Linked DNA regions of Homo sapiens. The protein of the gene in region 1 interacts with the protein of each later gene in a pairwise test. Each region holds a gene or a part of one and is shown on either strand. Other genes may lie near its edges. The genes, in order: FAM168B, CSTF2, KRTAP26-1 and HSF4.

Region 1 (8,607 bases):
TCTCCTCAGGGTGGGTTCCTAGAGCTGGGGTTGCTGGGTCAGAGAGCAAATGCACATGTGATTGTTAGGATACTGCTGAGTTCTTATCAGCAGTGTGAGACGATTTCCCCACAGCCTGGCTAACAGAATGTGTTTTCCAGCTTCTGGATTTCTGCTAGTCGGAAGTTAGTCAGCGTAGTTGTAGTTTGCAATTCTGTGTATCTGTGTCTATTGATTTGAGTGGTGGGGGTGGGGCGGGATGTTTGTTTTTGTGGTTTTAAAAGTTACTTACGTATTAAGTGTACTAGCCCTTTGTCTAAATAATTTAGATACTTTATCTGAATTTGTCCTTTTGCTTAACTATGGTATTTTTTGCTGTTCTGAAGCTTTTACTTTTGTAAGGTGATCAGTCTTTTTTTTTTTTTTTTTTTAAGACGGAGTCTTGCTCTGTTGCCCAGGCTGGAGTGCAGTGGCGCGATCTCGGCTCACTGCAAGCTGCGCCTCCCAGGTTCACGCCATTCTCCTGCCTCAGCCTCCTGAGTAGCTGGGACTACAGGAGCCCGCCACTGCACCCGGCTAATTTTTTTTTTGTACTTTTATTAGAGATGGGGTTTCATCGTGGTCTCAATCTCCTGACCTCGTGATCCACCTGCCTCGGCCTCCCAAAGTGCTGGGATTACAGGCGTGAGCCACTGCGCCCGGCCAAGGTGATCAGTCTTGTAGAAATGATTCAGGTTTGGGATCGCTCTGGTGCCTTGATGTAGGGAGTCTGGCCTTTCCAGCCTACCATGCCAGAAGAGGGCTAGAATAGATGCTGAAGGAGACGGTCTCTGTGTCTGCTGGGGGTTGGGGTACCCAGAAAGATCAGGAATAGGAAGAAACAGTGATTCTTAACTCCATTGCTTGGAACCCTGCAGATTCACTGTCTGGAGAGAATGAGAAAAAAGAGGCTGGTGCACCCGAGACCAGCTAAAGCAGTGTTGGGGGTCCTCCCAAAGCTGCCCCTGTGGGTTTTGTGCAGTCCAGGTAGAAACCATTGGAGATAGTGAGGGGAGCCACGCTGCGGCTTGGGTCAGAGTGGTGACAGAGCAAGTGGGATGTGGCTGATGGGATGAGGCGATGGGAGCACGGAAGCAGCAGAGGCTGTCTAGGAGATTGGGAGTCTTTGATCCCCATACCAGAGACCAGGTATGTAGTGCATCTTGTTGCTGGTGGCTAGTGATGCCATCTTAAATACTATCGTGTGTGTTTGCTGTTTCATTATAGGATGTGTTAACTTCTTGTTAGAAACTGGGGGGCCGGGCGCGGTGGCTCGTGCCTGTAATCCCAGCACTTTGGGAGGCCGGGGTGGGCGGATCACGAGGTATGTAGATCGAGACCATCCTGGCTAACATGGTGAAACCCTGTCTCTACTAAAAATACAAAAAATTAGCCGGGCACGGGCCCCTGTAGTCCTAGCCACTCAGGAGGCTGAGGTAGGAGAATGGCGTGAACCCAGGAGGCGGAGCTTGCAGTAAGCCGAGATCACGCCACTGCATTCCAGCCTGGGCGACAGAGCAAGACTCCGTCTCAAAAAAAAAAAAAGAAAGAAAGTGGGGATGGGAAGGACTAAGCAAAGAAGACAGTAGTTTTTCAGGGACCGTTAAACACAATCTTCAGCAAACAAATCCAGAGCAGCCCTCTTCCCATGAGAATATATTGGTAGAGTTTTAGGGAGAGATGAGGAATTTGGAATTTCTGGAAATTATTGCAGAGGCCTACAGGATATGATCTAGGTCAGTGGTAGTTGAAACTTTTTTTTTTTTTTTAAAAGAAGGAAACCATTGGAAAAAAAAATCTTGCTGGTTCCCTGGTCTCTGAGGGCAGTTCCAGACCTTTCTTGGTCTTCCTGTGCTCACAATTGGGCTTCTGAGGAGTCTCTCAGCATCCCCAGAACTGCTGTCCTGGTCTTTCCAGTGGCCATTGTGGGTCTCTTTGAAGTTGAATCTGCCCTTGACGTCCACCACACTCTGTTCTCTGACTAATTAGAGAGGGCAAACGGGAGGGTGAGAGTCCAGGAGGGAAACCCGGAATGGCTTCTGCTGAGGTAGAGGGGGATCAGTTTGAAGTGAGGAAAGCAACTTTGAAGCAAGGATAAAGATGAGAACTGGGCACTTGGAGGGATTCTGGGGCTAGGGCTTGGTGACACTGATGCCTCCTGTTCCCACAGAAACCTGCAAGATGGCTTAGGGATGCAGGGCAATAGAGCAAGGGATCCAGGCTGAGGGGGCCGAAGGGAGGCACGTGAGGAGCTGTATTCAGAACTTTCTGTCCCACCTACAAAGATTTTCCTTTTGGCATTCCACTCAGATCCCCCCTGTTTTTACCTCAACCTTAGGGCTTCCTTGCTTTGGTTACTGTTAGCACCATGATTTGTTCCTAAGGGATCGTAACACCTTAAAAATCCCAGTCCAAGTGCTGTAAGAGACACCTTTCTCCAGGCCTCCTCAACACAGTTTCTTTTGAAGACTGCTCTTCTCTTTCAACTTTATTTACAGGTGAAGGAAGTGTGCAGTAGAGAAGTTACAGCTTCTCACAGCTAGTGGGAACAGTAATCAAGGCTAGGAAACCTGAGTCATCTTGTTGGCTGTGTGCCCCAAATAGAAAGAACGCTTTCTGGCCAGGTGCAGTGGCTCACACCTGTAATCCCAGCACTTTGGGAGGCCGAGGAGGGCGGATTATGAGGTCAGGAGATGGAGACCATCCTGGCCAACATGGTGAAACCCCGTCTCTACTAAAAATACAAACATTAGCTGGACATGGTGGCGTGTGCCCGAAATCCCAGCTACTTGGGAGGATGAGGCAGGAGAATCGCTTGAACCAGGGAGGTAGAGGTTGCAGTGAGCCGAGATCACGCCATTGCACTCCAGCCTGGCAACAGAGCGAGACTCTGTCTCAAAAAAAAAGAGAGAATACTTTCTAATACCTCAGCTGTCACAAGTGATGCCTCCTGTACTGTGAGCCAGAGGGGTCAGCCCAAAGGGAAGGGAGGCCTTATCGAAAAGGGCAGATGCCTGAGGCCCCCTCTGTTGGTTGCACCTTGGGGCCAGGATTCTGACTGTAGCACTCAATGTCTTATTTGATGTTTCTGTTTCGTTCATATTATGAATTACTAGGTCATGGTTTAGTCTTAATAAGATTCCTCATTTGTATTAATAAAGGTCAGCTTATTTGCACGTGGACTGTAGTTGGATTTTTCCCATTTCTGTGTGTATGCATTCCCAGTTAGAGCTCCTTCTGTAAGAAGACTGAAGCTTAAGTAAGACACAGCCTGGGTTTATGACTGGTGTCTTAATTTGTTTTCTGCTGCTTTAGCAGAATATCAAGCTGGATAATGAACAGAAATTTATTAGGCTCTTGGTTCTGGAGGTTAGGGAAGTCCAAGAGCATGGCGATGGCATCTCGTGAGGGCTTTTGGGCTCTATCCTCTTGTGATGGATGGTGGAAGGGCAGCGAGTGCGTCAGAGAGAAAGGGGGCTGAACTTGTCCTTTTTATCAGGAACCCACTTTCATAATAAAGCCGTCACCTATTAAATGTCCCACCTCTCAGTGCTGTTAAAATGACAAATTTTAACGTGAGCTTTGGAGAGGACATATGAAAACATATTAGCTGGTCATGCTGGAGAAGTTGGGGATCAGAACATCAAAATATGGCAAGGCGTGGTAACTCATGCCGGTAATACCCGCACTTTGGGAGGCCGAGGCAGGTGGATCACCTGAGGTCAGGAGTTCGAGACCAGCCTGGCCAGCATGGCAAAACCCCATCTCTACTAAAAATACAAAAATTAGCTGGGCGTGGTGGTGCACGCCTGTAGTCCCAGCTACTAGGGAGACTGAGGCAGGAGAAATGCTTGAACCCAGGAGGCGGAGGTTGCAGTGAGCCGAGATCTCACCACTGCACTCCAGCGTAGGCAACAGAGCAAGACTCTGTCTTAGAAAAAAAAAAGAACATCAGAATGTGAAAAAACCTGAAATGAATTTAGAAGTTTAAAACAGTTTCTTACAACAAAAAATAATAGCTTTTAAGTCAAAATATGTAATGTAGGAAATGTCGGAATTCAGTGAAAATGAGTGACCTTTACATAGGCTTAGCTGTTCACTGGTAGCAGCAAAAATAGGCCCTTGAGTCCAAGCTAGACTTGAATTCTGATTCTTCCAGACTTTGTGCAGTGAAGTCAGATGAGGGTAACAGGACCTAGCGTGTGATACCCTTAGCACTCTTACTACTCTTGCTAAGTAATTATGTGATTAGAGTTTGGAATGAAACTTCCAGAAATGTTATAATTGAGGCTTGGCGCGGTGGCTTATGCCTGTAATCCCAGCACTTCGGGAGGCTGAGGTGGGTGGATCATGAGGTCAGGAGTTCGAGACCAGCCTGGTCACCATGGTGAAACCTTGTCTCTACTAAAAATACAAAAATTAGCTGGGCGTGGTGGTAGATGCCTGTAATCCCAGCTACTCGGAAGGCTGAGGCAGGAGAATCGCTTGAAACGGAGGTTGCAGTGAGCCGAGGTCGCGCCACTGCACTCTAGCCTGGGCAACAAGAGTGAAACTCTGTCCCCCTCCAAAAAATAAATAAAAATAAAATATATAATTGTTACCTATCAAAATTCTGAGGGAAAGCCAGGCGTGGTGGCTCACACCTATAATCCCAGCACTTTGGGAGGCCGAGGCGGGTGGATCAACTGAAATCAGGAGTTCAAGACCAGCCTGGCTAACGTGATGAAACCCCGTCTCTACTAAAAATAGAAAAATTAGCCAGGTGTGGTGACACACACCTGTAATCCCAGCTCTTCGGAAGGCTGAGGCAGGAGAATCGCTTGAACCTGGGAGGCAGAGGTTGCAGTGAGCCAAGATCATGCCATTGCACTCCAGCCTGGGCGATGAAAGTGAAACTCTGTCTCAAAAGACGACAACGATAAAAAAAACAAAGTTCTGCGGGAAGAAGACAACTAGAGACATGCTGTTGGCCACACATAGTGCTCTTGGGGCTGCTTAAGTCTGTGGAGTTCTGGGGAAGAAGGTAAGAGCGATGGCTTTGCAGGAGCTCTAGTGATTGTCGCTACTTCAGTTGATGACATGAGATTGTTCTTTATTTTTCTTCAGCTGGTTTTCCCATGGGCTATGCAGCAGCAGCTCCTGCCTATTCTCCTAACATGTATCCTGGAGCGAATCCTACCTTCCAAACAGGTATGTGCTGGGTGGTAAAATGCTTTGTACGTACAGCTGGGAGAGAAAGGTGAAGGGGTGGATTTTGAGAGGGGTGGGTATAGAATTAGGACTTGGTTGAGTCGATTTCTCAAGTTCATTAAGTTAGCCTGTTGATAAGTGCAACAAAAGCTTAATTCTTACTGCACTGAAGCTTTATATACTGTGTTTCTCATGTCCTCCCACAAGGCAAATCTGTAATCACTAGGTTGTTAACTCTGCCAGAGCATCTGTTCATGAAATAGTATCACCTACTAGAAATTGAAGAATTTCTTGCCATGCCAACAGGTGGAATTTCCATGTTAATGTTTTTAGAGATAATTTTTGGTTAGACTACTTTAGCACTCTGATAATATTTTTTAAAAAAGTATTATTTTCCATGTAATGTATAGATGAATATTTTTAGATTTTGGAAATCACTGTTAATATTAAAAGTGGAATTGGTTTGGGTCTGAATCTTGAGGAGATTGGTTATTTAGTGGGATTTCCTGCTAGGAGCCTGCACTCTCTGGTGTTGGTTCCTTTTGGACTTTTTTCACCCACACGGGGCTTTGCCTTTCTGCCGCAGCAGTGGTGGTGCACACTCTGATCTGAGGCTGTGGTTTGGCCTTAATCCTGGGACTGCTGGGGCAACTTTATCCCTCAACAGTAGCTTCACACAGTTAACTTTGACAGAGGAGGAGACAACAGCAGTGTCCTTTCCCCAGATTCTTCCTGTTTTGTTAATCATAAAATTCTGCCTTTATATTCTGTCCTTACATCCATCTCTTCGTTTCCATTTCCACTTCCACTATGACCCTATATGACCACCCTTGTTCAGACCGTAGTTCACACCCTGAGAAAAACGTTCTTGACTTGGTCTTCCTGCTCCCAAGCTTTCTTTCCCCGGGTTAGTGTTCTTCCCATTTAAACCAGAGCGATGCTCCCAGATGAATTTTTCTCAGTGGTTTCCCATGACTGTGAGACACAGTTATGCCTAGAGTCTCGACTTTCAGTCCCTAGCTGTTTGCCATATTGGCCCATTTTTTCCCTTTAGAGTGGTTTTCCTTTTGTGTTTTGCCTTGAAAGAACCATCCATCTCGTAGTGTATATTAGCAGTTCATTCCTTTTTATTGTTAGGTAGTATTTTGTTGTATGGAAATAAATACTTCAGTTTGCTTATCCATTTACCATGTGATGAACATTTGGGTTATTTGCAATTTTGGGCTATTACAAATGAAAATGCTATTAATATTTATATGCAGGTTATTGTGTGAACATACACTTTGATTTCTCTTGAGTAAATAAATACAGAGGATTTGAGTGGCTGGTTATTATGGCAAGTGTATATTTAACTTTGTGAGAAACTGCCAAACTGTCTTCCAAAGTGGTGGTACCATTTTACATTCCTACCAGCAGTGTTTGTGAGTTGTCGTTCCTCCACATCCTTAACAACACTTGGTGTGGTCAGTCTTTTTAATTCTAGCCATTCTAGTGAATGTGTAGCAGTATCTTTTCATGTGCGTATTTGCCTTCTGTATGTCTTTGGTGAAGAATTTGCTTTTACTGTATGTCAGTTATTGTTTTCTTATCGTTGAGTTTTTGAGAGTTCTTATCAGATATATGCGTGTTTTCTCCCAGTCTGTGGCTTTTTCATTCTTTTAACAACGTCTTTTAAAGAGCAGGGGTTTTAAAAGTTTAGGCTGGGCGCGGTGGCTCACGTCTGTAATCCCAGCAATTTGGGAGGCTGAGGCGGGTGGATCATGAGGTCAGGAGTTCGAGACCAGCCTGGCCAACGTGGTGAAACCCCGTCTCTACTAAAAATACAAAAATTAGCTGGGCTTGGAGGCGCACTCCGGTAATCCCGGCTACTAGGGAGGCTGAGGCAGGAGAATCACTTGAACCCAGGAGACAGAGGTTGCAGTGAGCCGAGATCGTGCCATAGCATTCCAGCCTGGGCGACAGGGTGAGACTCCGTCTCAACCAAAAAAAAAAAAGTTTGATGAGGGTTAGTCGTTTTATGGATCATGCTTTTGGTACCATACTTAATAAACCTGTGTAACTTGGCTGGGCGCAGTGGCTCACGCCTGTCGTCCCAGCACTTTGGGAGGCCGGGGTGGGTGGATCATGAGGTCAGGAGATCGAGACCATCCTGGCTAACGCGGTGAAACCCCCTCTCTACTAAAAATACAAAAAATTAGCTGGTCATGGTGGCGGGCTCCTGTAGTCCCAGCTACTCCAGAGGCTGAGGCAGGAGAATGGCCAGAACCTGGAAGGCGGAGCTTGCAGTGAGCCGAGATTGCGCCACTGCACTCCAGCCTGAGCGACAGAGCAGGACTCCGTCCCCAAAAAAAAAAACAAAAGAGAAAGAAACCTGTGTAACCTAACTTCACAAAGATTTTCTTCTTTTTTCTTGTAGAAGTTTTACACTTGTAGGTTTTACATTTATGTCTGTGACCCATTTGCAGTTAATTTTTGTGTATGATGGTAGGAATGGATTGAAGTTTATATCTTTGGCATACGTATCAATGTGGCATGTGATGATCATGCCGTAGACCACCATAACGTAAGTTACTCTTCTAGGATTTTCAGAGGTAGCCCACTTTTACTCATTTCTTCATGGAGCACAAATCAGTGTGAAAATGTACTTAAAACTTTCAACTTTTTTATTTTACAAGAAGAACCTTGAGTTAATTTCAGGCTGAGAGCTGTTCTTGCCAAAAATGTGCAGCACTGCCTAGCAGAGGCAGGGTGGAGACTGAGTGCTGCTGACACCTTCCCCCCTTGGGTGCCTGTGGGGGCCACCCTGTGGAACATGGGCCACCCATCTCATTATTATTTTGAGACAGGGTCTTGCTCTGTCGCCCAGGCTGCAGTGCAGTGGTGCAATCACGCCTCACTGCAGCCTCGACTTTTCAGGCTCAAGCAATGCTCCCACCTCAGCCTCCCGAGTAGCTGGGATTACAGGTGCACACCACCACACTCGGCTAATTTTTCTATTTTTTTGTAGAGATGGGTTTCACTATGTTGTCTAGGCTGGTCGCAAACTCCTGGGCTTAAGTGATCCTCCTGCCTCAGCCTTCCAAAGTGCTGGGATTATAGCCGTGAGCTACCATGCCCAGCTTGTCACCCATCTTCTCGAACATCTCTCCTTTCTCATAGGGAGGTAAGGCCTGTGTTGTCCCTTTTCCAAGACTGCTCTCAAATTGTTCCTGTAATCCAGAAGCTGGGACAGGCAGGTAGCAACTGCAGCTGCCCAAACGGCCTACCTTGTTTAGAGGGGCATCTGCTGACGGGTGCCAGGCAGTTGTTAGGTGCCAGACTGCTGGCTCACCAGTGCCAGATCTTCTGGTCTTGTAGGAGAAGCTGTGAAATTGGTGAATGAAAAATATAAGGCAGCCG
Region 2 (6,237 bases), on another chromosome or scaffold:
GTTTTTTTTTGTCACTAGTCTGAGCACAATAAAGGTAGGTCATGAACTCATGGTGGCTAATCATGTTTCATTTATTACAACAGTAAAACAATACTGATGGTTGTTTACATAGGGAGGGATACCACTGCTGTTGCCAATTTGTTCACCCGGATTTCAGCTAATTCAGGTTTAATAAGGCTTTGGGAAAATGCACAATGAAACCTTGAAGACATGATTCTTATTAGACAACTACTGACCAAATGACAACTTCATCTTCAATGACCTTGATTTGGAATCTTGAAACTTACAACGAGTTCCTAATGAGAAAGGCATCACTCTTGGTCTCCATGTCTAAATATATTGACACACTCACTTCAAGATATGATGGCTGCCAAAATCAATATCCCAAGGCTTGAATATTTATGGGAGTAGGCATAAATTCGTGATTATATTCATGGTAATGAATATAATAAATCCTATGCATAGCCAACATCCAAGTTGAACTGGGGATGAGCAGGATACACAGAAAGCTCCTCACCTGCTTTGAGCAAGTTTTTCTTGCAAAGTTGTAATATGAAATACCTTAATCAACAAATTTCTTATAAATGTTTATATGAGTAGAAAATCCCTCAATTTCATTGTCACTCAAAAAGTTGATTATCTTTGCATTCTTTTGCTTGACATGTAAGCAATATGCTATTACATTCTCTAAGCCTATGCCAGGCTTTTAATTCACCTGACCATAATCCTAACCCAGGGGATAGAATTCCAAGAATATAAATTGGCTCAAAAGTAGTTCCAGTAGAACTTTACTGATTATTAAGGCAACTCTTAACCTCTTGAGGTTGGCCTGATAGAGAGAAACCATGTTCCTCCTTAATGCCACTACGAGAGAGATGGGGTTGGGGTGGGGGGAGAGGAGGAGGCGGCGGCGCGGCGAGAGAGAGAAATACTAGGCAATAAGACCCATAGATTAGAGCTAATGGCACTAATTATGTTCATACCTATCCGCAAGGAAGCAGGCAGGAGCAGACCTAATGAGCAATCTGACTGTGCTCTACATTTGGTCCACTTAAAATGAGAAGAATGTACAAGTTTTAGGGTTTTCTGTGTTGTAAGTTCCCAGAATAAACGTAGTTACAGGGTAGGGCTGCAGGTTAGGGACTGCCTGGAAGATAGGATGAAATGTATTTTGTTCATTTGATTTCTGTTTTTATTTCATCTTGAGCATGTGAAAAATCAGTGGCTTTTTAAACTTTCAAAGTTGACTGCCTAGACTGATAAGTTTAAGAACACACAAGTAAATGTCAACAGTCTCTTGTGTTGCTGACACACTCAAACCAGTGCTAAAACAATTTTTGTCTTAACTCTGAATTATACATGTTCAGACCTGCTATTGAAACAAATGCATTTTGATATTTGGATTTTTCTAAACTAAACACACAGCTGTGCTAGGCTCTTTGCTCTGTTAGCCTTCTGACCATTTTATAGCTCTAAGCATGTGATATTTTCTCCTAGAAGACTCCGAAGTGCTAGAATATTTTCAGAGGGCAAAGCCTTATAATAATTCTTACTGGAAGCAAACTAAACAAAAACCAAGTTCCAGAAAACATTGCTTCTGAGAAATTCTCAAATATCATCAAGAAGAATAAGTGGTTAACTTAAAAACAAAACTATGGCAATATGTTAAAGTACAATACTGCAGTAAGGGTAGAAAACACATCTAAGGTTTCACCCTTAGTGTTAAGCTTTTTAAAAGCAAAAAGGTCATGTGTATCAATTTGCAGTGTACTAAAATTGTGTTCAAAGTTTATTTCAAGTCACAGAAAATATACAAACTAAGACAATAAAATGAAGTGATTTTGTTCTGAGAGAAGGTGATGGGAGTCCTCCACCTGGCACTGATTTGAGTCATTCAAGGGTTAGGATGCAGGTCATCTTTTTTCAATATTTCAACAAAATTATAGAATTTCCAGATTTCTTGCCAGGTATTTTTGAAAACCTGTAAGAAGAAGTTAGGACAAAGCCATTAGAAGTGAAGACAAAGCTCTCTTCCGGAAAAACTTCAGGAAAAAAAATAAAAAGGCTAGGGGAGGGAGGACAGGCATATAATCAAATCACCAGGACAGATTTGCAAAGTATCTGTCTCCTGCCTCCTGACTCCTCAAAGCAATCAGCCCTTGCAGCAGGGTTTCTCAACCTCAGCACTACTGACATTTTGGGCTGGAGTACTAGTTGCTATTGGGAAGTGGGTGAGGGGGACCATCCTGTGCATTATGGGATGTTTAGCAGTATCTCTGGCCTCTACCCACTGAATGCCAGTAGCATGCCATACTCCCTAAAGTTGTGATGACCAAAAACGTCTCAAGACAATGTCACCTAGGGGGCAAAACTGCCCTTGTTTGAGAACCATTCATCTCTAATGACAACAGTATAGAAGCCTGTCCATGATGGCAGAGATGGATCACAACTAGCTAGGTATAGGATGGAGGAAAACCCAACACTTTAGCCATGGTATGCACAAACACCAGTAGACACACAATAAAATCTTGCCCACATAAAATTGCATAGAACCACACATACATATACACAAATCATGATAGTTTTTTTAAAATGGTGAAAACTGAGTTTGCAGTCAAGTTAACAGTAATGTGCCAATGTCAATTTCTTGGTTTTGCACTACACTGGGTGAAGGGTACATGAGACTCCTTGTACTATTTTTCCAACTTTCCTTGAGTCTATGATTATTTAAAAATAAAAGGTAAAAAAATAGACAAAAACTTTGCCTTGTGGTTAATATGCAAGGCCTTAAATTAAACATCCTATAAGCAAAACTATAATGAAAGAAATTTCAGAAACATTTCTACCTCTACTATCCAGAAACAGTAAGGAGTAATTTTCTCACATTGTAGGGAATGCCTTCTCTGGCTTAAGTAAATTAGTAAAAGAAATAATTTTTATTTATTCCTCTGAATGTAATAGGTAGTCTATACTTTTACTAAAAAAAAAGAATATGTGGGGTTTGTGGAATAAAACGTTAAGGTACCAAAAGTCTACTGAGCCTTCTATCTATGATAGCTTCTCATTAATTCATTTAAGGTCTAAATACATATATGATGCATAGTCGCAGTTTAAATGTTTAAAGACATCACAAGTATGGATTAAAATGATATATTTTGTAAGAGTGGTAATTATTAATAGTTAAATGAGTTCACTATTATATAACATAAGAATAGGAATTATAATATGGATGGGGTAAAAAGTAGAAATTTAAATTGTGCTGTCCTACCTGATAGTGGGGCAACATGAATTTTAAACTGTTTTTAGAAAAAAGAACTGTTTATAAAATACAAAATGCTGGGGAAATTTTTTTTAAAAAAGAAACACTGATACATGTATGTGTAATCAAGTTGTCACATGATTATTTATGAAGCAGGTTACCTGGATCCTTTTTTTTTTTTTTTTTTGACACAGAGTCTCACTCTGTGACCCAGGCTAGAGTGCAGTGGCATAATCATGGCTTACTGCAGCCCTGACCTCCTGGACTCAACCAGTCCTCCCACCTCGGCCTCACAAGTAGCTGGAACTATAGGCGCATCTCACCATGCCTGGCTAATTTTTTAAAAAATTTTTGTAAAGATGGGGTCTCACTATGTTGCTTAGGCTGGTCTTGAACTCCTGGTCTCAAGTAATCCTTCCACCTCAGCCTGCCAAAGCTGAGATTACAGGGCTCAGCCACTGTGCTTGGCCCCTGGATTCTTTCTGCCTAAATGATGAGCAAGAAAAATAAGGGTAGCAGGGTACAGCGATCTCCAAAATATATAGAAACTGATGGTGATGACGGACATTTACTACCTTAAATTATGTGCTACTATAGTTCAACATCAAAATATTCCCTATAAAATAAATACAAGAAACAAAATATTTACACATTTTATTGAAATGCTTTGTATTTTTCCATTTTGACAGGACAGTTTGGAATAAAATAATACAATTGATTGTAGAAGGATACACACCAAACTATATTTAGAGGTTTTGTCTGGGGAATGAGATTGAGGAAACAGGGCTTTTTACCTTTCACCTTCTACATTTCTGTATATGATTACTTTTGTTAAACTGATCATACATTACCTTTGTCATTAGGAAAGATTATAAGCAATTCAACAACTGAACAAACATTGTATAGCCTTACTCTATCCCTACAGGAGCTGACCTACTGAAGGGTAAAGAAGAGTCTAGCTGAGTGGATTGAGGGCCGCTGAGAGAACAATCTTGTTGGTTAAGGTTAAAAGTATATACCCAGAATAGACAAGGAGCTAGTCCTACTCAGATGGGGATTAAGTTTGCTCACCTATCAAGGTGCTCCAGTGGATTTCTGTATTTGTTCCTTTAAAATCAGGATACTCTGCCTTTGCTCAGGAGGCAACATGGCAATCTGGTCTGCAGTCAGTTGTAGAACCTGCATAATCAAAGCAGCCTGTGCAGAGGAAAAAAAAAAGGTAGTGAGTTTTAATGATGGCAGCTAAAAAATACAAAACAAAACAAAAAACCCACCACCAGCTTCTGTCCAAAAAGCTACTGTAGTGGGATATGAAGCAAAATGGAAAAAGGAAGAACATTTCACACAGAAAAAAACCAACAGCCCCCCTCCAAAAAAAATAAAAAATAAAAAAAAACTGGTGAGAAAAGGTACAATGAAAAGAACAAGTATAAATTAAAATACCTAAGATTAGACGATTCAAAACAGACAACTTCATGAACTCAAAGTTCCTGGAGACTAAGATGGTATCTGTGAGCCCTGGAAATCCTTCAAGTTTTAATCCTGTTTTGAAAGTCTCTCTTTTTCACAAATTTTAGCCTTTCCATCAGACATAAGCTCCCCACAATGGTCAAATATAAAAACAGAAAGATATAATCATGGGGAATCTACTATTGTTTTTAGGGATAAAGTAGAAAGGGAAGGAAAAAGGGTGTGGATTTTCAGGTCAATCTGGCCTGAACAAGAAAAACCTGCTATTGGCAGATGAGTGTGAAATATAAAATAAGCTGCCATTTACATCCACTTAAGAACTTCACATCCATTAGGAACTTCAGGACCAGACTCACAAATTTTCAGGTAACAAGATCATAAAAGAGTTCTAAGTTAGAATAAACATCACCTCCAAAGGGACTTTGAAGACCCAGGATCGTCACATGGTAACTGTGAAAAGAGGAATCAAAAAGGCTAGAATTGTGCATAAGGAGGCAGTCAGACAGTGTTGCTTACCTTCTCATGATCCTGTGGAGTGACTTGGTTCTGCCCGGGACTAAAGCCGCCAGGCTGGCTTCCACCCTGTATACTTGCTCCTTGCATTCCTGTTCCCTGCATGACTGGGACCTATGTGTACAAAGAGAAAAGAGAGATTTTTGGCATTTTTAATGTATAGGTAACCTGAATTCAGTAATAATGTGACAAATTATGATCTCTATACAGATATGAGTAAAAAAAGCAAATCAATGACTCTGAAGATCATTTTCTACTGTTAGCAATAGCAGAAGGCAGGGTTTAGCCAGAGATCAACTAGCAAGTTCGACATACTTGCTTACAACACCTCCAGCATCATCAACAAATATTACACAGCACAACTGGATACCACTGAATTAATCAAAATTCAGCCAAATAAGCACAGTGAAAACTGAGAACACCCTGGAAACTAGTGCTCACTGGAAATACAAATGAAAGCCAACAGAGTCTAGAGAAAATGTATGCTGGTCCACTGGGGAAGTTACATTCACAGGGCCACCCCCTACCCTAGTTCAATCAGATACAGGTAGTTTGTCCCAAAGGGCCCTATCCCACAAGTGAGGCAGAGATGTTCATAATGTCAGAGAGGCAGAAAGGCAATGGGAAGGCCTCCAGGAAAAAGACTGCTATTAGCCCAACATTTGCTGTTTATAGCTTTCCATAGAGAACATATGGCAGATGCTTTCTGCTAAATGTAGACCAAAAAATATGACTGACTGGAGTGAAAAAACCAAGTACAGTGATATCATACTTACTGGTACTTAAGATCTTCAATGAGTTCAACCCTTTGCAAGACTACCAGAACCCAAGGAAAAGACCTCTTGAGTACCAAATCTAACTGTTAGAATGTCCCTATACAAGCATTATGTTCACACTCAGGCATTCACCCAGAGCTTAGGTACTCTCTTAATAAACACATATTGTTAACAAACTTGTTACCTGCTTACCCAGCAGATTAGAAGCAGCAAAACATA
Region 3 (7,306 bases), on another chromosome or scaffold:
ACCAAAAACTATCATAAGGACAAAGAAGGTCATTATATCATGAAAAAGGAGTCCATTCATAAAGAGGATATAACAATCACAAATACATATGCACCCAACATTGGAATACCTAAATATAAAAACAAATATTAACAGAACTGAGGGGAGAAATTGACAGTAGTATGATAATCACAGGAGACTTTGATACCCCGGTTTCAACAGTGGATACATCACCCAGACAGAAGATCAAAAAGGAAACAGCAGACTTACCTAACAGATTTATACAAAACATTTCATCCAACAGGAGAAGAATACACATTCTTTTCTAGCACACACTAAATATTATCCAGGATAGATTATGGGTTAGCCCCCAAAAAAGTCTTAGGGAAATTAAAATCATATTAAACATCCAACCATAATGATATTAAACCACCAAACTAGAAATCAGTAACAAGAGGAAAATTGAAAAATTCACAAATATGTGAAAATTAAACAACACACTACTGAACAACCAATAAATCAAAGAAAAAATCAAAAGAGAAATTAAAAAATATTGAGACAATGAAAATGGAAGCACAACATTCCAAAACTTTGGAATGCATCGAAAACCATTTTAAGATGTTTACAGCAAAAAATACCTACCTGAAAAAAGAAAGATTTCAAACAACTTAACTTCTCAAGAAGTTAGAGAAAGAATAACAAACTAAGCCCAAAGTCAGCAGAAGAAAAAAAAATAGAGCAGAAAAAAGTCAAATAGAAAATTTTTTATAAAATTAGGAAGATTTGTAGAAGTAAGGCTTGTTGTTTTTTAAACATTTCCAAATTTATTTTACAAAACCAGCATTACCCTGATACTAGTGTTGGTCAAGGATAATAAAAGATAAAACAGAAATGAAAACATAAACTGGAAGCCAATATGCCTGATTAAGATAGATGCAAAAGTCCTCAACAAAATACTAGTAAGCAGGATTCAATGGCACATTCAAAGGATGATACAACATGATTAAGTGAATTTTATTCCTGGGAGGCTAGGATGATTCAACACATGCATATCAATGAATGTGATACACCAAATTAGCAGAAAGAAGGATAAAAGTTATCATCCCTATGGATGTAGAAAAAGCATTTGACAGAATTCAACAAACTTTCACGATAAAGACTTTAACAAATTAGGCACAGAAGGAATATACTTCAACATAACAAAGTCCATATATGACAGACTCACAGGTGAAACACACAATGGTGAAAACCTAAAAGCTTTTCTCCCTAGATCAGGAACAAGACAAGGATGCCCACTCTTTCTACTTCTATTCAATATAGTACTAGAAGTCCTAGCCAGAGCAATTAGTCAGAAAAAAAAAAAAAAAGAAAATCACCCAAATCATAACGAAGTAAAATTGTCTCTGTTTGCATGTGACACGATTCTATACATTAGAAACCCTAAAGACTCCACCAAAAAACTATTAGAACTAGTAAATATTAACAGGCAACCCAAAAAAGTAGGAGAGAATCTTTACTGGGAAGTAGAGAAGGGCCAGACAAGTGTCAGAACAATTCTCTGTTGACAAAGAGAAATCATCCACTTTTTTGAGAAAGAGAATCATATGATGAAATTAATTTCATGAGTATTATTTCAAATGCATTATTTAGGCAAAATAGAAGACCATAGGGACAGAAGTCAAAGGTGGCAGTAGGAAATTCACTGAAGGAGAACAAAAAAGCCCAACTTAAATCATTGCCATGATAACAGAAAGAAAAAAATGGAAAGAAATATATAATTTTAGAAGATAAAGGGAGAAAAGCATAACAGGTTTTCCCACTTTCCAATCTATGCTGCAAATTAACCTCAGCACTCTCTTCTTGAAACACATTACTGGATCACCACACCTTTAGAACAATATCTTAACTACTTCCCCCAGTAATTTCAACATGTGAATATGAGTTTGCTTCTTAGAATCCTTCACTGGGAAGCTCTATGTTGTCATTTTCTCTACCTTGACATCTTCTTCCATAGCCTAAAGTGTTTTCCTCTTCTCCAAAGCCCCTTCCATCTTTCAAAATTAATATCAAATGTTAAATTTTTGGTAAGGTGAATGAACTATGTTTGCTCTTCTCTGTACATTACTTACGGAACTTAGTAAACACTGACATGGGTTATGTACCTGTCTTATCACGCTTACCAGATAGTGTACATCTGAGAGCAGAAACCAATTTTATGTTGGTTCCATTGCCAGCATCTATCATAATGTTTTGCACATACTACATGCTCAATAATATTTGCTGAATGGATGAGTTAAAAGTACCTTGTTTATTGGCACAACTTTATTGTTGAAATGTTCTGGGGATTTTTTGTCTCCAAGACAGAGAAACTCAGAATTCTCCTTCTACAGTAGGAGAGACAAAGATCCATGGTTTATTAAAAAAAAAAAAAAAAAAAAAAAAAAAGCAACGCCATGGGTAAATCTGGGAAATCACACAGGATGCCCAGTTCCTCCGATTATCCCTGGGCTCTTAACTCAGAAGAGAAGTCTGAAACATGTAGTTTATAGGATCCTGCTAATGAGGTACCTGGTATTATGCCCAAATAAGCAATTCTCTATTAGTGACACAGCCACTATGAAATAATTTTAGTTCAACCTATATTACATGAAGGACAACTTATATTCAGGGTACTTCACTTTCTGAAGATCTGTTGATATTTTTGCAATTTTACCCCCCCACCGCCCCCCCCCCCCCACACACACACGAGAAACTCATGGTGGTGCTCTAAAGAAATTAAACCCAAGGTCGTACTCTCCAGAATGGGTTAAGAACGCCAAAGCAAGAAAATAGATTACTCTTGTATAACGTTTTACAGTTTATTTTAACTTTTAATGACATCTCAATATATTCCTGAAATGTCACTGAAAAGTAGATACTATTAATATTTCCATAAAATTATACTGATAGTGACTGGGGAGCAGAGCAATTATGCAAATTACCCAATTCACACGGTTATTGGTTATTAAATGATAGTATCAATGCATCTCTATGTAATGCCATATTGGATAGAGAAAAACTGTTTGGGGAGTCAAGGAGCCTTTTTTCAGATGTTTTTCGTAATACCTATTACTGCAACTTTCTAAAGCTCAAGTTTTCTCGTATGAGTACTTGAAATAGTAAGATCTACTGTATAGAATTGTGAGGACAAAGTGAATGGCACATGTGGGCACCCACAGCACAAGGTTCTTCAGAGTAGGCATTCCATGAATGCCAGTTTCCTCTTATTCCACACCCCTTCTCTTCATGGAAAACCATCCATGTATACATAGAACATGTAGTATATACATCTATCCACACATACACACAAGCGTATTGATGTACTAATGATACAGATGTTGGGCTCTTGTTTATATTAGAGAAGAGCAGACATAAAAAGGATCAACATACAATTTCATAAGCATTCAGCTAAATATGACTGTACCTATTACTAACGCCATTCAGCTGATGCAACCAGGATTTTACAAGAAGACTCTAGCAGCTGTATACACAGAGTATTAGGTGATGTCCGAAGTATACAAAGTATCCGGTTATACAAACAGTATTAGGTGATGAGGGCCTGGGGTTGGGGGTTGGAGTGAGTGGGGCTTTCTCAAATACATCAGGTACAAATCGTCTGACCTAAAATACTGAGATAAATTCAACATGTTAGTACAGGACCTCCGGGATTATACCATTTTATTTTTATATTTCTCCCCCAGTAGTAAAATAGTCTAGTGTTGTCTCATTGAGAAACCAACTTTCTGTTTCAGAGATTTCACTCCTCCAGGACAGAGGGAGACTGGATAAGCACAAGTATGTCCCTCAAACACCAAAATAGAAGAAAGTGTTATGATTTAAATTGACTAGCCAAAAGGAATTGGAACTTAGAGCCAGCAGATAATTTAAAATCCCATTAAAATAGCTACTGGAGCCACTGGGTATGTCAGTATGAGAAAAATATAGAGGGATAGTTGAAACTAACTAAAATCATACATTTTTTAAAACAATTTTACCAGAAATACATATTCTCAAATGACCTTTAAAGTACTAAAACTTAGGAAAACAATAATTTATCCTGATGCTTTTCCCTATGTAAAGCAGTTTAGAAGCTCCTTTTTGGAAATTGACATCAAGGCCAATGTAGAAAGCAAAATAAATTCATGTCATAATCAGTGTATTTTTTAACCAAGAACAATATTTTTTCAGTTGGAATATGAGAAACCATGCAATACATAACCTTGAAATAATCATGAAAAATGTCAAGATGCCTGACTTTCTTTAAGAGGTCTACTTCTCTGCTTTTGTTCACAGTAGGATACATAATTTTAACTTGGCCCAACTTCATTATCTATATTCAAGAATATCTTAAACATAAGCCAAGGTTTCAGCTTCACTCAGCTTATTTATTTATTGAAATGACTAAAATGAGCACATATTTTTGAATAAAGATATTTTGGTAGAAAGTCAAGTCTGAATAGAATTCTGAAATAAAGCAAATCACAACTTAGAAAAATAAATTCTAACCAAGCAAAACATATTGAAATTGTCCATATTTCTGTCATATAGTTTGCAAGGATTTTCATTTTCTCTTATACTTGTTCCAAGTTACTCACTTCTGGCAATTTCCAAGAAGAATAGAATTTTTCTTCAAAAAGATGTAAGTTCTCACTGTTTCAAAGAAGTTGCTACAACTTTCAAAGACAATTCTAAGAGAGGAATCTTAAGAATGTTTGTGCAATGGTGGTTATAATTGGAATAAGCACATAGGCTTTAAAATGTGTCTGTTTTGTTTGGATAATTTAAGAAGGATAGATCCTATTAAAACTCAGTCGCATTGGTTTATAGATAGACGTAATCAATGGATGGCATTGCAAGGAGCATCCAGTTTTATGGAGGGTGGAAGCCTCACTTCCTTGGCTATAATAAAGAGTTCTGATGCATCTTCATACAACAAGAGGAAGAGTCTGCACGCAGAAGCACCACCTTCTAGGGATAAATAAAGGGTCAAGCTAAGGAAGGGCAGAACAAACTTCAGACACTCACTTCTTTGCCTCAACTTCAGCCTGCTCTCACAACCTCACTATGTCTTGCCCCAACTACTGCTCGGGAAACTCCAACTCAGGATCTCTCAGAACCTCCCGCCATATTCCTCTCACCTCCATCGACCTCTGCCCTACCAGCGTGAGCTGTGGAGATGTCCTCTACTTACCCACTAGCTCTCAAGACCATACCTGGGTCACAGACAACTGCCAAGAGACCTGCGGTGAACCAACCAGCTGCCAGCCGGTCCACTGTGAGACCGGCAATCTTGAAACCTCTTGCGGTTCTTCCACTGCTTACTACGTGCCCAGGCCTTGCCAAGGAAGCAGTTTTCTTCCTGCTTCTTTCTTCTCCAGTTCCTGCCTTCCAGTATCCTGTAGACCACAGAGGTATGTGTCCAGCGGCTGTCGTCCACTGAGGCCGCTGCTCAATAGTTACCAGCCCATAGGAGACTGTGTGCCCAATGCCTATCGCCCCCAATTCTGCTTGTCCAAGAGTTGCCAGCCCCAAAACCTCCTCACTTCTGGATGCCAACCCTCGAGTTGCTTGGCCTATCGTCCTCAAAGTCTTCACGTTGTGTCCAGCAGCCTCAGACCTCTGGGGCCTCTGTTCAGTGGTTGCCAACCTCTGACCCATGTGTTCAGCACGTGTCGTCCATCTTGCTCTGGACTGTGAAACCAGCAGCTTCTTTGTTCCAGTGAATAATCACTCTGAGCATCCACAACAAAAATTCAAACTCCATGGACTTTTGCTTCTTTGCTAGTAGCAACTGATGTTTCTTAGTTTTACTGTGCCTGATCTAATGCAAGCTGCTTCTCTCGCATGTTTTATCTTGTTTTCATCTTTCCTTGACATCAAAAAAATTAGTTTACAATGCTATTCAATGTTGCTCTGGTCTGGGAAGAATGTATTTGTTTTGCACTATAATAAATGCGATTAAGTCCAAATTAAGAATCTGGTTCAGCGCTTTGTGTTTCATGACTTAATTTCAACACAGAAATAACCAACGTCAATTGCTTGCAAGATGACTGAGCTGGACAAGTGATACTCAACCATATATTCTTACCTGACAGTAGAGGGATTGTTTGATGGTTTATTCCTTAAGCTGCTTTTTAGACTTCTGACCCTATGTACTTGAGAGACCCAAAAAGTCCTTGGGAAAGCTGTTTTGAAAAGGAAAAATTAGGAGTGATGTCTCTTATCTCTCTACCCCATGAACACACTTCCACCAGAATGTTCTTTCTAATTGCAAACCTAACCAAGTTTCTGCTTACGCCTTTGATGGCTTCCTATAATCTATTCCCATAAGATAAATATTCAAACCTCTTAGCATGACACCTAGTTCCCTCACTGTCTTTCTCCCCCATACCTCTCTGGCTTCATGCTCTTTTGCTCAATATTGCAAATAATAAAACTAAGCTCCTGCGATCCTGACTTACACATGGGTCCCCAAACATATGCTTTTTACAGTCATCCATCCTTTTGCATAGGTCATCATCGAGAGCGGTATGTTCTTCAGCTCTGTTTTGAAAACTCATACTTGCTTTTACAAAAACACAGTCTTGAGTTCATTAATTAATCTTTTGATTTATTCAGAAACAAAGGTACTGCTTGCATACTATATGCCAGGCACAAAAGATACTGAGGTGAACAAAACAGTCCTGAACTATCACAGAATTTGCCAGAAGTTATAAGCTATGGGACATGTAACAATTAAAGATACATTTTTTCTCTCACTCAACCTAAAATGTGTGGGGGCATATATTTCATTAATTAAAAGGAAATAAAGTTTTAAAAGCCTGAATATTTACCTTTTTGAGGAACTGGAATAGCTAGAAAAGCTAGAAACTGTATCACTGTGCAAGAAAGTGATTGGCAGGCAGCTCGCAGTAACTCCCAGCTGTTCCCTTTAGACAGGGCACACACTTCTGGTTCTCAGTTCAATCTTGCCCTAGAGACTTCCTGACAATGAAGCAGAATGCCAGTTCCACTTACTATCATGATCATGCCACTGTTGTTAATTTCATTCTGGTTCATTATTTGCCTTATTTGCTTGCTCTCCTGGATATTTTGATTTTGTGACATCTGTATCCCCTATTTTTTGAAGCCTTTCCCCGGCCCTCTCTGTGCCTCTTACCCTAATCACACATTGGCTCAGCCTGAATTTTATCTCAGCCATATGTCTACTGTTAATCTTGTTGAACTGTTATTTTTAACATCATTTTAAATGAGATTTTAGTTAACATATAACATACATAACTAATTT
Region 4 (8,852 bases), on another chromosome or scaffold:
TGGTTATGGTCCCACCCCAAGGGGTGGAAGTGGGGACCGAACAGGACCATTGTCTGCCCATCAGGTCTGTGGGGGTCGAGGGGGAGGTGGGGAGTACTGGGAACCTGGAGACTGGGGATGCTTTCTCACACTCACTAGTACTAGAAGATGGGGAAGGTGAACCAGGCTGGAGGTCGAGTTAACAGGGTAAAGAGGCCAGGGCCCTAGTTTCGCATCCGCCGACTGGCAGCTCTTCTTACGTGTTCTTTCACGGAAGCCCCTCCTTGGGAAGCCCCGCGCCCCACCCACCAGGAGTCGTCCCTTTTTGGGCGGGGCTGAGGCTTCCAGGCTGGGTCCTGAGAAAGTTTGGTGGCCGGAGACTGTGGGGCGCTTAGGTACCGACCTAACAACTTCTGCGCCTGTTTCCAGGGACGAGCCACGCACGGTGCCCCCTGAACACCTAACAGTCCCGGGGGCAGCCCCACCTCTGGCTGGGTGGACAGAGACAGCCTGTGGGCGTGGCCCAGAACTGAAAGCCTGTGACTCCTTGCGACCCGCCGGGCACACCCCCTACTCAGCTACGCAGCTCCCGAGCGCTTGAGGGGAGCTTCCCAGGCTCCCACTAGCCCACCCTCAAGCTGGGGTTTCGCACGTGCGATCGGCTGGGGTGGGCAAGGGGGTCTCCGCTCAAGGAAAGTATTCAGAACCAGCCCCTTCTCCCCCACCCTCTCTCCTGCAGGGCCCTACTGCACCTCGAAAGTGCTGGCAGGGACGAGGAGCCTGCGGGGGCCAAATTCCGTACCGTCCCCCGCCTCCCACGGTGTTCGAACAGCTCAGTAGACCGCCGCCACCAGCTGGCTGGAGCAGCCGCCGGTGACATCTGCGCCGCGCCCACGCTTCGGAGCCAAGATCCACCTCCTCTCCCGCCCGCACCGGGGAGCCCACCCACCCACCTGCTGCACTAACCTGGCCGCCTCGGCGGGGCCTGGGTTCCCACGCCCGCCAGGCTCCGCTCTACTCCGCCGCTTCCGGGTGTGCGCGGAGGCGCTGGGGCGGTGCCCTAGCCCGAGCCGCCCCGTCCGCCCGCGCGTCCCGCCCCGCGGGCTCCCGGTGGCTGCTTCCCGTCCGCTGTCCTCTGCTGCCAGTCCCCTGCCCCGGGCAAAGCCCATCTGGTCCGCCGAGCAGGTAAGACACCAGCGCCCAAGGTTAGACGGCAGGAAGACCCGACTTTGGGGGTTTGCGATTCTTACGAGGCGGGGGGCTCGTAAGAGCTACAGCTGCCAGACTTCGGTAAATCAAGGGGGCGCCCCCTGGAGACCAGAATTTTCTGGTACCCCTGGGGATCCGGCTTCAAGATCGCTGCTACCAGTGGGCACTCAAAACGGGGTGCCCATGGGTCCCAGGTACAAGCCCGGCCGAACGTATCTGAAGCCCCAGGAAACACGTGGCACAAATTCCGGGAGAAACTGTTAGCCCGGAAGATATGGGAACATTAACTGGCGAGTAGTGTGAAGCCTTGTGTACACAAACCTTTAAGAACCTTAAAACAAGATTGGCGGCCGGGCGCGGTGGCTCACGCCTGTAATCCCAGCACTTTGGAAGGCCGAGGCAGGTGGATCACCTGAGGTCAGGAGTTTGAGACCAGCCTGGCCAATATGGTGAAACCCCGTCTCTACTAAAAATACAAAAATTAGCCCGGCGAGGTGGCGCGCGCCTGGAGTCCCAGCTACTCGGGAGGCTGAGGCAGAAGAATCGCTTGAACCCGCGAGGCGGAGTTTGCAGTGAGCCGAGATCTCGCCACTGCACTCCAGCCTGGGCGACACAGCTAGATTCCGTCTCAAAACAAAACAAAACAAAAACAAACAGGATTGGCAACTTCAAAGAGGACGCACACTTTCCAGTAACCCATCCCCCTCTAAAGGCTGCGCTCCAGGGTGGGTCTGCGGAGTTCCAGCCGAACCCAAATTGCTCAGCGGGAGCCAGGGCTGCTCAGGGGTCGGAACTTAAATCTTGAGCCCCTCAGGCCCCAGAACCGTCAGGTCCCAGAGACCCAAGTTTTTTTTCATCCAGTGGGGCTGTCTTAGGAAGCACCCGGGACATCTCCCCGGCGAGGCGGAGGCGGGGAAGGAGCCTCCCCTCCAGGGGTGGATCCAGCTTTGCCCCGCCCACGCCTCGCTTCCTGATTGGCTCATGGTCCCTGACAAAGAAAAGCCTACATTAACGCTCCCGCCTTATTAACCCTGTAGTCACTTTCTACTAACCGGCGGGGTTAAGATGGGGTTTCTCAGGCCGGGCGCGGTGGCTCATGCCCGTAATCCCAGCACTTTGGGAGGCCCAGGCGGGCCGATCGCTTGAGCCTAGGAGTTCGAGGTCAGTCTGGGCAACAAAGCGAGACCTCGTCTCTGCAACAAAATTACAAAAATTAGCCAGGCGTGGTGGCGTGCCCCTGTAGTCCCAGCTACTCGGGAGGCTGAGGTGGGAGGATTGCTTGAGCCCGGGAGACTGAGGGTGCAGTGAGTTGTGATTGCGCCACTGCACTCCAGCCTGGGTAAAGAGCGAGACCCTGTCTCAAAAAAAAAGAAAAAAAAAAAAAAAAGTGGGAGGGGAGTTCTCAACGTGGAACCTGTGGAGTCACAGGGGCTTGTTGAAATGCAGATTCCTGGGCCTTACCCTTTCCGGAGAGCCTGATTTAGTAGGTGAGGCGGTGAAATCTGCTTTGTGAACAAGTTTCGGGGTTATCTGATGCCCCACGCTGTCTGAGAGGCCCTCAGTTCCTCAGGCCACAAGCATTTGTACACCTAAGCTCGGTCTTCCTGCAACACTTTGCGCCTTCCCGACCTCAGAGACGTCCGTCTCTCTCCAGGCCGGAGCTATTGGGAGTGGCGGATCCTCCCACCCCAGCCGGATCTGGGCCATGGCCGAGCCTGGAGAGGGACTGCCAGAGGAGGTGCTGGCACTCATCTTCCGCCACCTGTCCCTGAGAGACCGTGCTGCCGCCGCCAGGGTCTGCAGGGCCTGGGCCGCCGCTGCTACCTGCAGCGCCGTGTGGCACGACACAAAAATCAGGTGAGCCTGCTCCTCCACACTCCTCTCCCCACCGCCCACTCACCTTCTCCGTGGAGTCGTGGGCTAGGTAGATATTCAGGTTGACTCCCCCATATTAAAAAATAATTGCTGGCCGGGCGTGGTGGCTCATGCCTGTAATCCCAGCACTTTGGCAGGCCGAGGCGGGTGGATCACCTGAGGTCAGGAGTTTGAGACCAGCCTGGCCACCATGCTGAAACCCCGTCTCTACTAAAATACAAAAACTAGCCGGGCATGGTGGTGGGCGCCTATAATTCTAGCTACTCGGGAGGCTGAGGCACAAGAATCGCTTGAACCCGGGAGGCAAAGGTTGCAGTGAGCCGAGATGGCACCACTGCACTCCAGCTTGGCGACAGAGTAACAGTTTATCTCAAAATAATAATAATAATTGCTGACGTATTGACTGCCTAGTATATACCAACCATTGTTTTTAAGTGCCTTACATATATTAACTAATTTAATCCTTATGAAAACCTTGTGTGGTAGATAGGTATTATCATTACCTCCATTGCCCAGATAGGAAACTGAGGCAAAGAGACTTAATCACTTCCCACGGGTCACTCAGCTAGGGAATGGCAGAGGCAGAATTCGAACCTAGCAGTCCGGAGGCCATGCCAAGACTCCTTAGAGACAGCTGAGAAAGCCCAGTTCCTAAAATATCATTGGCTCTCCATGTCCAGGTTTCATCCTGTGGCAGACGCCACTGAAATCTTCTAAAAGGATAGGATGCGAGTTCCCTCCTTTGGGGCAACAGTCGTGGTCTGAACAGAGACGTGGGGAGGGAGGCAGGAAATGGGATGGCAGCTGGAACCCCAGCTAAGGGGTGGGTAGAGGCTTCTCCGCTGGTCGCAGGGACTCAGCTGAGGCCTTTTCTGCACGGCTCTAACCCAAGTTGCGAATGTGAGCTGGAAGGCATGCTGCCACCTTATCTGTCCGCCTGCCTCGACCACATTCACAACCTACGGCTGGAATTTGAGCCATCGAGGAAGCCGAGCCGCCGGGCGGCCATCGAGCTGCTGATGGTTCTGGCGGGCCGTGCCCCGGGGCTGCGAGGCCTGCGCCTGGAGTGCCGCGGAGAAAAACCGCTCTTCGACGCGGGCCGCGACGTCCTGGAGGCTGTGCACGCTGTATGCGGGGCGGCCAGCCAGCTACGCCACCTCGACCTGCGGCGCTTGTCCTTCACACTGGACGACGCGCTGGTGCTGCAGGCGGCGCGCAGCTGTCCCGAGCTCCACAGCCTTTTTCTGGACAACAGTACCCTAGTGGGCAGCGTGGGTCCCGGCTCAGTGCTCGAGCTACTGGAGGCCTGCCCGCGCCTGCGCGCTCTCGGCCTGCACCTAGCCAGTTTGTCGCACGCCATCCTCGAAGCACTGGCGGCGCCAGACCGAGCGCCTTTCGCGCTCTTGGCTCTGCGGTGCGCGTGCCCCGAAGATGCACGCGCGTCCCCGCTGCCCAACGAAGCCTGGGTCGCGTTGCGCCGCCGCCACCCTGGGCTGGCAGTGGAGCTGGAGCTGGAGCCCGCGCTGCCCGCTGAGAGCGTGACGCGCGTCCTGCAGCCAGCCGTCCCCGTGGCTGCGCTGCGCCTCAACCTCTCAGGCGACACCGTAGGCCCAGTGCGCTTCGCAGCACACCACTACGCCGCAACCCTGTGCGCGCTCGAGGTGCGCGCAGCCGCTTCGGCCGAGCTGAACGCCGCGCTGGAGGAGCTGGCGGCGCGCTGCGCGGCCCTGCGCGAGGTGCATTGTTTCTGCGTGGTGAGCCACTCGGTGCTGGACGCCTTCCGCGCGCACTGCCCGCGCCTGCGCACCTATACCCTCAAGCTCACGCGCGAGCCGCATCCCTGGAGGCCTACGCTCGTGGCGTGATTGGGCGACTTCTCTCCCCCGTCCCCGTGGACGTAAGCGCTCTGAGAGGGAACGGGGGGGGTGTCCAGGCGCGCCCCGAGTGCTAGTGCCTTCTTTTGGGATTGTTGCCCCCCGGGTCTTTACCGAGTTGGGAACTGTGATGGCATCGGGACCAGTCCTGGGCGCCCTGAGACCACTCGCTGCTCTCACCCTCTGCAGACGCCCCACCCGCTCGGTCCTGGACACACTGCCCCCCTCTCTTGCCTCCACCCCTCTGCGGACTCTGCAGCTCCGCGGCCCCGGCGCAGGGAGAGGGAGGGCACGGGCGCGGGCCGGGCCTCAAGGGTGAGTGTGAAATAAACAAATCCTGCAGTGTTTCTGCGTCCTATTAAAGGCGGGGTCGGATCTGAAAGGGAAGGACAGGGAACGCGCGGGGTACCGGAGGAGCCATCCCGGCAGAGGTTGGGTTTCCTCAAGAGCCTCTGGACGACACAGCTGCGGGGGGTCAGGGTCGGGGCACTCACACCCTTGGAATGACTACGTCCCGGGGTTCGGCGGGAGGGGGCGTGCTTCCCTGCCCCCCCTTCCTATCTGCTTGCCCTGCCTGGGGCTTCACTGTGCCTCTGGCCATTACCTTCTAGGACTTGCCCAGCCCACACCAGGTCGCGCACCGGCGATTTCTCCTGTAGAACAAAGAAGGAAATAGAGGGACCGAGAGGGGTGGGACTCGAACCCAAGTCTCCCACTCATCTCACCCCACCCCACCCCACTCCACCCCACCCCACCCCTCCACTCCACTCCACTCCACACATCCCATCCAGCCAGCCTTTTCTGCCTGCTGGTGCCTCGGCCGCTGTCCGAGCCCCGCCCCGCGGGCTTGCACGTGGCCCCCGCCTGACCCGGCGCCCCGGGGCGGAGTAGGGCGGAGCGGGCGGCAAACGCAGCACTTTCCGCGGCTTTGACGAGCCCGCAGCGGCCGGGCCCGAGCGCAGAGCCGGGCCGAGACTGCACCATGCAGGAAGCGCCAGCTGCGCTGCCCACGGAGCCAGGCCCCAGCCCCGTGCCTGCCTTCCTCGGCAAGCTATGGGCGCTGGTGGGGGACCCAGGCACAGACCACCTGATCCGCTGGAGCCCGGTGAGGGCCGGGGCCCCTCGATTCCCCCTGTGGTCCCGGGGTCCCTCCACGTCAGTGAACACCCATGCCCGCCCAACCCCCTCCTGAGACTGGGCCGTGGATCCCCGGATTTGGCCATTCAGAGAAGTTCACCTTGGAGGGGGTGTGCGAGAGGGGGGTTTCCTCTGCGGCCGAAGAAGGGTTAGGAGCCTGCCTTCTGAAGACCTAGAGTCCGAGGGACCTTCGAGGCCATTTAGTTCCCACCCTACCCCATCCGACAGATGGGAAAACAGAGGCCGGGAGATGGGAAGGGCTGGTCTAGCTCAGGGTCACATTGCGGGGCTGGGAACCCCGTCAGCCTCTCCTTTCTGAGAACTGAGTATGGAGTCAGGGTCTGGCTGGGGGTAGGGACTCACTGTGGTCGCTCCAGGCTAGGCCTCGGAGCCCGTTCTGGCCTGGCCTCGACCCATATCCCCGTAAGCGGCAGGCCTGGACCCAAGAGTGAGCATGAGTGTGTGCGCGCGCTGGAGCGCAGGACTGGCCGTGAGCGGGCACCGCTCACCCTCCTGGTCTCCGCCCGCACGGTGGGCGGGCGGCGTTCTTGGTAGAGCGGGACCAGTTTCCTCGTAAGCGACCAGAGCCGTTTCGCCAAGGAAGTGCTGCCCCAGTATTTCAAGCATAGCAACATGGCGAGCTTCGTGCGCCAACTCAACATGTGTGAGTCCCTACGGCCGGGCGGGGAGCGGGGATGGGGGACTCGGTGCCGGGGATGGGGCGACCCACGCCCCCACGCCCCACTCCCCAGACGGTTTTCGGAAGGTGGTGAGCATCGAGCAGGGCGGCCTGCTTAGGCCGGAGCGCGACCACGTCGAGTTCCAGCACCCGAGCTTCGTGCGCGGCCGCGAGCAGCTACTGGAGCGCGTGCGGCGCAAGGTGGGGGCGGCCTGCGGGAATGAGCAAAGAGGAGGAGGGGTGCTGGGACTGCCTGCCTTGCTCCTGCGACCCAGTCCCGACGGTGCCTCCCGCCTGCAGGTGCCCGCGCTGCGCGGCGACGACGGCCGCTGGCGCCCGGAGGACCTGGGTCGACTACTGGGCGAGGTGCAGGCTTTGCGGGGAGTGCAGGAGAGCACCGAGGCGCGGCTGCGGGAGCTCAGGCAGTGCGGGGGCGGGCGGGGAAAGAGGGGACAGGGGTGGGGGGTTCGGGATGAGACCATAACTGGCCGGCCAGCAGTTCTGGGCAGCCCCTTCCTCTCTCCTGCCTTGGCGCCTCCATCTAGACTTATGGGCGATCTCTGGGATGGCCAGTCAGCGGGGTGGTCTCCTGGGTCCCCAGCCTCGCCATTCTGTGGGGGGTGGTGACTGGGCGAACTCTCAGATGCCTCAGCACCCTCCCACCCCTTCCTCAGGCAGAACGAGATCTTGTGGCGGGAGGTGGTGACACTTCGGCAGAGCCACGGTCAGCAGCACCGGGTCATTGGCAAGGTGTTCCTCTCCCCAAGCCTCGCTTCTCCCTCCCACTCCTCGACACCCCATTCCACCGCCCAGTCCCCCGGCGCCCCTGTTAAGCCTTCCTCCCTCACCTGGAAGTGCGGGGGTGGGGGGGCTGTGTCCAAAGTATGAATTAAACCTTTGCTTTCTCTTCAGCTGATCCAGTGTCTCTTTGGGCCACTTCAGGCGGGGCCGAGCAATGCAGGAGGCAAGAGAAAGCTGTGAGTGAGAAAGCCAAGAAGGCCCACACCCACTTCCAAGACCCCCCAGAAGTCCCCTTGCAAGGACCCCTTCTCCTCTGGAAACTCCTTCACCGGGAATCCTCATTCCTCCCCCTGCGCTACAGGCTTCCTCACCCCATCTAGGATCCACTTCCCCCCAACTCTGCCACCTGGTATCCCCACTCCCAGATCCTCCCATTCCAGGACCTTATTCCCAAATTCCTACCCCAGCAGCCCCTTCCCCCTCCGGCAAGGCTTCCCAACAGCTGAGACCCTGGGGCTCAAACCAGGTTCCCTCCCTCCCCTCTCTACCCACAAAGGGCCCCCATCTCTAGGGGGAGCCCCTTCCACCTCCAGCATGTGACTGACACCCTAGCAACAGGCCTCAGCTCTGCTGACTTGGCTGCTGGGGCCTGAGGGAGGGAGGGAAGTGCAGGCCGAGGTGCATGGGGGCTGACCCTGCCCCACCCCTGCCTGTGCCCTGATCGACCACACAGGTCCCTGATGCTGGATGAGGGGAGCTCATGCCCAACACCTGCCAAGTTCAACACCTGCCCTCTACCTGGTGCCCTTCTGCAGGACCCCTACTTCATCCAGTCGGTAGGTTTGTCTTCTTCCCCCTTCCCAAGGGCATGGCTGGGCTTATGGAGAGCCTGTTCCTTCTCCCCATCCCCTAAAAGGAAGAGAAGATGGAAGCCAGCCTTCCCCCCAACCAGACCCAGGCCCTCCAGCATGGACTGAGCCTCCTCCCTCAAACCTTCTCCCTTAGACCTGGCCCAGGTGGGTGTTGGTGGGGTTCTGGCTCTCCCTGTGCCTACAGGCCAAGGGCTGGGCCTAGCCTTCTACTTACAGCCTCTCCCAGAGACAAATTTGGGCCTTAGCCCTCACAGGGCCAGGGGCCCCATCATCTCTGACATCCCAGAAGACTCTCCATCCCCTGAGGGGACCAGGCTTTCTCCCTCCAGTGATGGCAGGAGGTAAGGGGGACAGGGCTGCCCCTGAGGGGCCTGTGGGGGAGGGCCTGGCAGCCCAGATGGCTGTAGGGGTAGAGGGAGAAGTCAGTGCCAGGGTCTGGTTGAAGCTTTTCTCTGGTGCAGGGAGAAGGGCCTGGCACTGCTCAAA

What was found.
Region 2: the proteins of FAM168B (region 1) and CSTF2 interact in binary tests that used the Homo sapiens proteins (3 or more experiments, as listed by UniProt).
Region 3: the proteins of FAM168B (region 1) and KRTAP26-1 interact in binary tests that used the Homo sapiens proteins (3 or more experiments, as listed by UniProt).
Region 4: the proteins of FAM168B (region 1) and HSF4 interact in binary tests that used the Homo sapiens proteins (3 or more experiments, as listed by UniProt).

The regions. Positions count from the first base shown.
Region 1 is NC_000002.12:131,068,456-131,077,062, reverse strand, and holds part of FAM168B (myelin-associated neurite-outgrowth inhibitor), read left to right. Parts: intron 1-693; exon of another isoform or gene 694-5,041; intron 5,042-5,124; coding exon 5,125-5,208; intron 5,209-8,607. UniProt on the Homo sapiens protein: Inhibitor of neuronal axonal outgrowth. Acts as a negative regulator of CDC42 and STAT3 and a positive regulator of STMN2. Positive regulator of CDC27.
Region 2 is NC_000023.11:100,836,458-100,842,694, reverse strand, and holds the end of CSTF2 (cleavage stimulation factor subunit 2), read right to left. Parts: intron 5,357-6,237; coding exon 5,246-5,356; intron 4,457-5,245; coding exon 4,334-4,456; 3' UTR 4,331-4,333; intron 1,982-4,330; 3' UTR 1,175-1,981; downstream 1-1,174. UniProt on the Homo sapiens protein: One of the multiple factors required for polyadenylation and 3'-end cleavage of mammalian pre-mRNAs. This subunit is directly involved in the binding to pre-mRNAs.
Region 3 is NC_000021.9:30,317,812-30,325,117, reverse strand, and holds KRTAP26-1 (keratin-associated protein 26-1), read left to right. Parts: upstream 1-4,802; 5' UTR 4,803-5,082; coding exon 5,083-5,715; 3' UTR 5,716-5,994; downstream 5,995-7,306. UniProt on the Homo sapiens protein: In the hair cortex, hair keratin intermediate filaments are embedded in an interfilamentous matrix, consisting of hair keratin-associated proteins (KRTAP), which are essential for the formation of a rigid and resistant hair shaft through their extensive disulfide bond cross-linking with abundant cysteine residues of hair keratins.
Region 4 is NC_000016.10:67,158,893-67,167,744, forward strand, and holds the start of HSF4 (heat shock factor protein 4), read left to right. Parts: upstream 1-5,852; 5' UTR 5,853-5,919; coding exon 5,920-6,042; intron 6,043-6,629; coding exon 6,630-6,738; intron 6,739-6,826; coding exon 6,827-6,954; intron 6,955-7,053; coding exon 7,054-7,178; intron 7,179-7,427; coding exon 7,428-7,503; intron 7,504-7,665; coding exon 7,666-7,730; intron 7,731-8,227; coding exon 8,228-8,330; intron 8,331-8,568; coding exon of another isoform or gene 8,569-8,582; coding exon 8,583-8,707; intron 8,708-8,827; coding exon 8,828-8,852. Other genes in the region: FBXL8 (F-box/LRR-repeat protein 8), read left to right, coding at 2,894-3,045, 3,956-4,928. UniProt on the Homo sapiens protein: Heat-shock transcription factor that specifically binds heat shock promoter elements (HSE).